Linked DNA regions of Homo sapiens. The protein of the gene in region 2 purifies or fractionates together with the protein of the main gene of each other region. This does not show direct contact. Each region holds a gene or a part of one and is shown on either strand. Other genes may lie near its edges.

Evidence for each region.
Region 1: the proteins of SESN2 (region 2) and SZT2 purify together in Homo sapiens (affinity purification with western blotting; one study listed by BioGRID and IntAct). This does not show direct contact.

Annotation. Positions count from the first base shown.
Region 1 is NC_000001.11:43,396,399-43,399,898, reverse strand, and holds part of SZT2 (KICSTOR complex protein SZT2), read right to left. Parts: intron 1-3,500.
Region 2 is NC_000001.11:28,261,366-28,266,773, reverse strand, and holds part of SESN2 (sestrin-2), read right to left. Parts: intron 1-5,408. UniProt on the Homo sapiens protein: Functions as an intracellular leucine sensor that negatively regulates the mTORC1 signaling pathway through the GATOR complex. In absence of leucine, binds the GATOR subcomplex GATOR2 and prevents mTORC1 signaling.

The sequences.
Region 1 (3,500 bases), about 15 Mb from region 2:
GTTACACTGCTTTCCAACACTGTGTTGAGACAGGTCCTGGCTAGGATTTTGGATTCATCCTTTGAGTGAGTTTAAGCTACTAAAGGAATTCCACAAGACAGTAACATTATATCTGCATTAAAAAAAATTCCCTCTGGTGGCCGGGCACCATGGCTCACGTCTGTAATCCCAGCACTTTGGGAGGCCAAGGCAGGCGGTTCACGAGGTCAGGAGATCGAGACCACCCTGGCTAACACAGCGAAACCCCGTCTCTACTAAAAATACAAAAAATTAGCTGGGTGTGGTGGCGGGTGCCTGTAGTCCCAGCTACTCAGGAGGCTGACGCAGGAGAATGGCGTGAACCCGGGAGGCGGAGCTTGCAGTGAGTCGAGATCACGCCACTGCACTCCAGCCTAGCGAGACTCCGTCTCAAAAAAAAAAAAAAAAAAAAAATTCCCTCTGGCTACTGTGTGATTTAGAAAGCACCCTCCCACCGCAGACTAACAACTAGGGGAGATGACAGTGGCTTAGACTAGAGCTACTCAAAGTAGCCATTCTGTGAACTGTGTGAGACTGGGTCTTGATGAGATAATGCCAGGATGCAAAACCACCACTATCTTTCACGGTGAAAGTCTTATTATGGAAAACAAAAAGTCAGCTGAACTAAACAGTGAACTTAGTTGTATTTCAAGGGATCTTTAGGATAGGACAGAAAAGAACTGGTGATTAATTATAAGTCAGGACATAGGAGGAAAGTAACAAAAAGGAAGGTATCAAGGATGATTAAAGTAGCATTGGAAACCAATACGCTGCAAAATGATTTTTTTCTTTTTTTTTTTTGAGACGGAGTCTCGCTCTGTCGCCTAGGCTGGAGTGTAGTGGCGCAATCTCGGCTCACTGCAACTTCCGCCTTCTCAGTTCAAGCGATTCTCCCACCTCAGCCTCCTGAGTAGCTGGGACTACAGGGGCATGCCACCATGCCTGGCTATTTTTTGTATTTTTAATAGAGATGGTGGTTCACCATATTGGCCAGGCTGGTCTCGAACTCCTGACCTTGTGATCTGCCCGCCTCCACCTCCCAAAGTGCTGGGATTACAGGCGTGAGCCACCGCACCCAACCTACTGCAAAATGATTTCTAAGTTAGCTACAAAAAGTAGATAGTTATTCCTGACTACCACACCCCATCGAAAAGTCCCATCAAATTGTACACTCTTATCGCCATGCTCCTAAAAACAGAAAAGGGGTCTATTTATTGGCAAAGAAGGAAATCACAGCAATTACTCACCCTTTCTTTCTCTGATCCTTGGTTTTAGGGTGGGATACTAAACCAGGCAACCTCTCCTTCAGGTTTGACTTAGCTAGTGTGGGTGGGATATTATGTGTTGACTATGCTGGATACTGCCAAAGTTCTTATCTAAAAAAGCATGTACAAGAGACTTACTGGAGTTTTAAAAAAGAATTTTTTTGTTAAGGGATGGTTTGGGGCTCAGAGCATTATCAGAATAGGAAGGCTATCCTAATTCAGCAGTCATTTGTTTATCACTCTGTCTCCAGAGCCCAGTGCAGTGCCTGGCACATAGGATGTTCAATAACATTTCTCTAAATAAGTGAATTCGCTATGGTTTTTTCTCCCCACCACCACCTCTTCCCCTCTCGCTATATGTTCTAAGCACGGCAAACTGGACATTTAAAACTAATCATAATTAGTACAACTTTTCTCAAGATGAGATCACCTTAACACTAGTGTCAACACTACTTTCCTTTTGTTCTTTGGTACTAAATACTTTTTGTTTTCAAATGCCAGCCTGTTTCAGCTATGCAAGGAAAAACCAAGGAAAAGCGTTTTGGCCCACGTAAGGCCAGGGTTAAAAGGGGAAGAGCACATGGTTGTGGGTCAGCACTATAAGGACAGAGTTGGGCACGTGGTCACCTCATCTTCTAGGACTAAAATCACGGCAAATCTAGGTTTAATAAATGAACCTTTCCATGACTGTCTGCACTAAGTTAGGGTCCTATGTTGGGCATTCACACAGCACTCTGTATTTTTTCTTCATGACACCTGCCAGAGTTTATAATTAAGAATTTGTAGGGGCCGGGCGTAGTGGCTCACACCTGTAATCCCAGCACTTTGGGAGGCCGGGGTGGGTGGATGACCTGAGGCCAGGAGCTCGAGACCAGCCTGGCCAATGTGGCGAAACCCCACCTCTACCAAAACATACAAAAATTAGCCGGGCATAGTGGAGCACATCTGTAGTCCCAGCTACTTAGGGGACCGAGGCAGGAGAATCGCTTGAACCCAGGAGGTGGAGGCTGCAGTGAGCCAAGATTGCACCACTGCACTCCAGCCTGGGCAACAGAGCAAGACTCCATCCATCTCTCCATCTCAAAAAAAAAAGAATTTGTATACTTTAATGTTTGTTTCCTGTATAAGTCTGAAGATCCAGCGAGGTGGAGGCCATGTCTACATATTGTTTCTTTTCTTTTTTTTTTTTTGAAATGGAGTCTCGCTCTGTCACCCAGGCTGGAGTGCAGCAGTGCCATCTTGGCTCACTGCAACCTCCGCCTCTTGGTTCAAGTGATTCTCTTGCCTCAGGCTCCTCAGTAGCTGGGACTATAAGCACGTGCCACCACACCCAGTTAATTTTTGTATTTTCAGTAGAGACAGGGTTTTGCCATGTTAGCCTGGTCTCGAACTTCTACCTCAGGTGATCCACTGGCCTCAGCCTCCCAAAGTGCTGGGATTACAGGTGTTAGCCACCACACCTGGCCTATACATTGTTTCTTGCTGTAACCCTAGAGCCTAGCACAGTGCCAAGACATACTAAGTGTTCTAATAATAACTGTTGAATACATGTATGAACAAGGAAAACTAATCTCACAAGCTGTATTTATTCTGTTTCCAGCTATTCTTAATTTGTTACCAATAATTTCTAATTTTTCACTCTTCTATCAACATGGTTTTTGTTGACGAAGAGTTCCTGTCCTTTATTCACTTCATCTTTCAATCATTTATGGACAAGGTAAGCTATTCTATTTTTGGAGTTTTTCCTTTGCTTCCACAAACATCGTTTTTACCACATTTTCACTAGTATCTTCTTCTTTATTGTTCCTGGAACCCTGGGGGAGTGCAAATGGGGGTTCTAACAGATTTGCTTTATGTTCCATTAGCTTTGTTTTAGAAAGAACAGTGTTACAGAAAGAAAGTGTTGTGATTTGACAGCTAAGACTCTGGGTGAGCTTCCTCCTGTGTAAAAATACCAGCTAGCCCAATGATGTGTGAAAGCACCTTGTAAAAAGTAACGTGTATAAATGCACAGATTAGTAATAACAAAGTGTTGCTGTTTACCTCTCTTCTTTGAGTCAGAAGTCCTGCACAGCCATTCACTTCAGTGTTGTTTCTTTGTTTTTTTTGCCCATACCTGTTTAGTTGGTAGAGTTGGGAATGTCCTCACATAGAGCCAGAATCTGTCTTTTTGATAATATCTTGACCTACTCTTAAAATCTGTTGTCTTGAAAATAT
Region 2 (5,408 bases):
CCAGCCTGGGCAACACAGTGAGACCCCTGTCTCCACAAACAGTAAATTAGCTGGGCATGGTAGCACACAACCTGTAGTCCCAGCTACTCAGGAGGCTGAGGCAGGAGGACTGCCTGAGCCCAGGAGTTTGAGGTTACAGCAAGCTATGATCGCACCACGGCATTCCAGCCTGAGCAACAGGGCAAGACCCTGTCTCAAAAAAAAAAAAAAAAAAAAAGATGGGGCTCTTGACACAAATTGCATGAGCTCAAATGACAGCTCCACCACCTGCTATCCCTTAGCTTTATGAGCCTCAGTTTCTTTACCAAATAATGGGGATAGCAGTAACTACTTCCACTGGCCAGTGATGAGGATTTCATGAGATAACACTGTGTAGCTTACCTCAATACCTCCATAACAATAAGCACTTAATAAAAAGTCAGGTATCATTAACCTCCTTGCTGTATCAAACAAGGGCTTCTCAACCCAAGCGGTACATTAGAATCCTTTGAGAAGCTTTACAAAAATAACAATGCCAAGGTCCCACCTCCCGCAATTCTAATTTAGTTATCTGGGGTGGGGCCCCAGCATAACAGCCAGGGTGAGGACCATTGTTTACACCATTTATTGATCACTTTCTCAAGTATAAGGCACTATGCTAAGTGCTTTCTAGGTGGAAACAGAATTAATTTGTTCACTCAACAAATATTTTTGATGGCTATATTGCAAGCAGCAAGAATACAGCAGTGAAAAGACAAAGCCCTTGGCCTTCATATAATTCAGAATCTGATAAACAGGATTTCAAAGCACAGATTCTATAAAGTGAGTGAAATAAACAGTAACTGTATGATGGGGAGGGAGAGTGTGCAATATTTTAGTGTAAGTAGACAGGAGAAGCCATTGAGGAGGTGGTCTTTGAGCTGTTATCTAAATGATGAGAAGACAGCAAGGCCTGTAAAGATCTAGGGGGCCTAAGTGGGGTGGTTCACACCTGTAACCCCGGTACTTTGGAAGGCTTGGTGGTGGAGGATCACCTGAGGCTAGGAATTTGAGAACAGTCTGGACAACACAGCAGGACACCCTCTCTTAAAAAACAAACAGGCCGGGCGCAGTGGCTCACGCCTGAAATCCCAGCACTTTGAGAGGCCGAGGCAGGCGGATCACCAGAGGTTGGGAGTTCGAGACCAGCCTGACCAACATGGAGAAACCCCGTCTCTACTAAAAATACAAAAAATTAGCCAGGCATGGTGGTGCATGCCTGTAGTCCCAGCTACTCGGGGGGCTGAGGCAGGAGAATTGCTTGAACCCAGGAGGTGGAGGTTGTGGTGAGCTGAGATCGCACCATTGCACTCCAGCCTGGGCAACAAGAGTGAAACTCCGTCTCAAAACAAACAAACACACACCCCAAAAACTAGGGGGACCAGCATTCCAGCCAGAGGGAACGCGAGTATAAAGCCCTGAAGGCAAAACCAAGTAGATTTGAATCCATGGCTCCAATACCCTGAATGCTTCCCCGATCCTGACAGAGGAAGCAGGCAGGGCAGCATACCACTGCCAAGAAATGACCCCTCCAAGTCAGCCCTCCCTGCCCAATTCCCTGGACTGGGGAGTCAGTAATAACAATGGTGCATAACAAGGCTGGTTACCACTGGCTAAGCATTAATTTCACATGCACTACCTGGACTTTAGGGCAGAAGCTACTACTAGGGCTTCCATTTTACAGATGAGGAACAAGGCTCAGAGAGGTCAACTCACTTCTGGCTACTCAGGCAGGAAGGCAGTAGCAGGGCTGGGATACAACCCAGGTTTCTGCAAGTGCAGAAATGATTCCCCATTCTCTAAACTTCTCAAGGTCTCAATAGTCTCCAGGCTGCTGCATCTGGGACTCACCAAGAATGAGAAGCTCCAGTCACAGCACCTGTCACACTTGGGGGCACACACTGAATCTAGTTCTTTGTTGTTACCCCAGTGCCTAGCATAGCACAGTCCAACAGAATTTTCTGCGATGATGGAATGTTTTATATCTGTACTGTCCAAGAAATGTGAGTCTCTAGTCACTGTGGCTGAGCATTTGAAATGTGACAAATGCAACAAAAAATTTTCATTTTATTTAATTTTAATTTATCTAAATTTAAATAGCCACATGTAGTGAGGGGTTACCATATTGGATGGTACAGGTTCAGTAGACCTGATAAAGGCATGATTCCAGTTCCACGTAACAGAACAAGAAAAGTGCAACACAGAGGGGTCAGGTCACCTGTCCAAAATAACAGCTAGTGTGGGACAGAGGGAGAACCAGTGTTGGGTATTTTTATAATTTCAACTAAACAGATCACATGGGGCAACAGGAACACTAAAGTTAACCCTTTAGGTGGTCATTCAACATGAAGGTCTTCACACAAACTGTAAAAAGAGGATAATGGCCCCAGACCTGTGCCTGGCTCCTAATTTTTTCTTTTTTTTTCTTTTTTTCTTTGAGATGGAGTCTCGCTCTGTCACCCAGGCTGGAGTGCAGTTGCGTGATCTTGGCTCACTGCAACCTCCGCCTCCTGAGTTCAGGCAATTCTCCTGCCTCAGCCTCCTAAGTAGCTGGGAGTATAGGCATGCGCCACCAAGCCCGGCTAATTTTTGTATTTTTAGTAGAGACATAACCTGCTCACCTTGGCCTCCCAATATGCTGGGATTATGGGCGTTTGAGCCACCGTGCCTGGCCTTTTTTTTTTTTTTTTTTAAATAGAGATGAGGTCTCACTGTGTTGCCAAGGCTGGTCTCAAACTCCTGGGCTCAAGCGATCTTCCCACTTCAGCCTCCCAAAGTGCTGGGATTACAGGCATGAGCCACCATGCCTGGCATGGATCCTAATTTAAGCACTTACTATATGTTAACTTTTAAATTAGCTCAGGTACTTGCACACAGGTTCCATCTAATTTTCATCTGTTTTGGGGCGGCGGCAGAGTCTCTATTTTGCACACAAGACTAAGGGTTCAAAGGTTAGGCACCAGCTGACAAGTAGCCAATCTGAGATCTGAACCCACGGCTGCCTGGCTTCTAAGGTCCATTCCACTTCATAATAACAGCTTTGGGAAGCAGCCCCAGCCTTGGAGAGTTGAACCCAGCTCAGTCTGGCTTCCAAGGGTTCTGTCTACTACCCATATCGGCTTCTTGGAGAAGCCCCAGACTTTATTCTCGGTTACCCTATATTATCCTTTATAGAGCCTGTAAGTCCCTGGTCTCAGCTACAGACACCTGGTTACCCACTCTGCCAGCTGGGAAGGAACAGACACTATTTCTCCTTCCCTCACCCCCAGCTGAATTCAGATATTTTCCTGGGTTTATGCCTGAGAAGACGATACGGAAATACAGCCCAAGCAGCCCAGGACCTCCAGCCTTGGAGTGGGCAGGGTGGAGGGGGTGTGAGTGAGTGGTGCCATACACTTGTCTGCCCATCATGAGCTGGGAACCACGCTAAGTGCTTTACACATCTGATTGTGCCAATTCCTCCCAACCACCCAGAGGGAAACAGTTCTTATAATCCCTTCTTCGGAAACAGGTCAGAGAGGCTCAGAAAGGTCCTCTTCCAAATGGGCACAATTCAGATCTGACTCCACGGCTGGAATAGTTCACAAGGGTCAGCTAAGCCAGCAAGGGGCAACTAGTCACGAACACTTATTAGGTGCAAAGAGCAGTGCTGGGGATGAGACTTGCAGGGTATCTCCAGCAAGGGACTATTTCACATAATTGGGACCAAAGCTCCTACAATGGAGGGAATGGAGGAGGGTGTGCAAGGGGACTTATCTAGTGGGGGAGGAAGGGCTTCCCTGAAGAAGAAATGATGTCTGAGAAAGTTTGTTTTGTTTTGTTTTTTTTGAGACGGAGTCTCACTCTGTCACCCAGGCTGGAGTACAGTGAAGCGATCTCGGCTCACTGCAACCTCTGCCTCCCAGGTTCAAGCAATTCTCCTACCTCAGCCTCCGGAGTAGCTGGGAGTACAGGCGTGTGCCACCACGCAGGGTTAATTTTTTGTATTTTTAGTAGAGACGGGGTTTCACCGTATTAGCCAGAATGGTCTCAATCTCCTGACCTTGTGATCCACCTACCTCGGCCTCCCAAAGTGCTTGGATTACAGGTGCGAGCCACCGCGCCCAGCCTGGTTTTTTTTTTTTTTTTTTTTTTGAGACAGACTCTTGCTCTGTCACCCAGGCTGGAGTGCAGTGGCATGATCACAGTTCACTGCAACCTCCGCCTCCCAGGCTCAAGCAATCCTCCCACCTCAGCCTTCGAAGTAGCTGGCGCACACCACCACGCCTGGCTAACTTTTGTATATTTTGTAGAGACAGGGTTTCAGGCTGGTTTTGAACTCCTGGGCTCAAGCAATCCATCTGCCTCGGCCTCCCAAAGTGTTAGTATTACAGGCATGAGCCACTGCATCTGGCCGAGAAAGTTATTCGGGAGCCCAATACTACCAGTACTAGAGTGAAGCCCTTGGAACTTTCTGAAGATACACACATCTGAAGGCAATGAGCTCCTGAAAGGGAGTGTGTGGTGAAGTGACAGGGAGTTAAGGGAGCTGCACGCCTGGGTCTTCTCTTGGACCTCGGGCACCTGACTCAAAGATCAGCACCCTGCTGTCTTCTAAGGATGCCACCACTCAAAGCAGAAACCGTCCGAAGGTCCTCTTTTCTCGAGAGAGGAATACACAGAAATCTCCCAGATAGGCCAGGTGCGGTGGCTCATGCCGGTAATCTCAGCACTTTGGGAGGCCAAGGCAGGTGGATCACCTGAGGTTAGGAGTTCAAGATCAGCCTGGCCAACATGCTGAAACTCTGTTTCTACTGAAAATACAAAAATTAGCTGGGCATGGTGGCGGGTGCCTGTAATCCCAACTACTAGGGAGGCTGAGGCAGGAGAATTGCTTGAACCTGGGAGATGGAGGTTGCAGTGAGCTGAGATCGTGCCACTGCACTCCAGCCTGGGCAACAGAGCAAGACTCCATCTCAAAAAAAAAAAAAAAAAAAGATAAGAAAAAGAAACCTCCCAGATAGCAGCAGTTTTCTCCACTGAGGAAACATGGCTTCTGTGTAAAGATCCCTCCCTCAAAGCCTTTTCTCCCTAGACCAGGCACTGACCCAGAGAGGGGTGTACAGTGTCTGATCTCAGGAACAGGCTCAGGCACCCCCTTGTGAGACACTCTGGAGAAAGCTGTGCGTGCCATGGCCACGTTCTGATAATAGCAAGCAAGTATCACGCAGTTACTATGTTCCAGTCACAGTGCTTCAGCTTTTGCTTGTATTCTGAGTTAATTCTCCCAACAATCCCTTAGAGATACTGTAAAATCCCCATGGGAAGAAACCACAGATCAGAGAAGTGATTACTGGCTAAGCCACACACTGCAAGTTAGCAGGAGGGCTGGGACATGAACCCAGCACTCT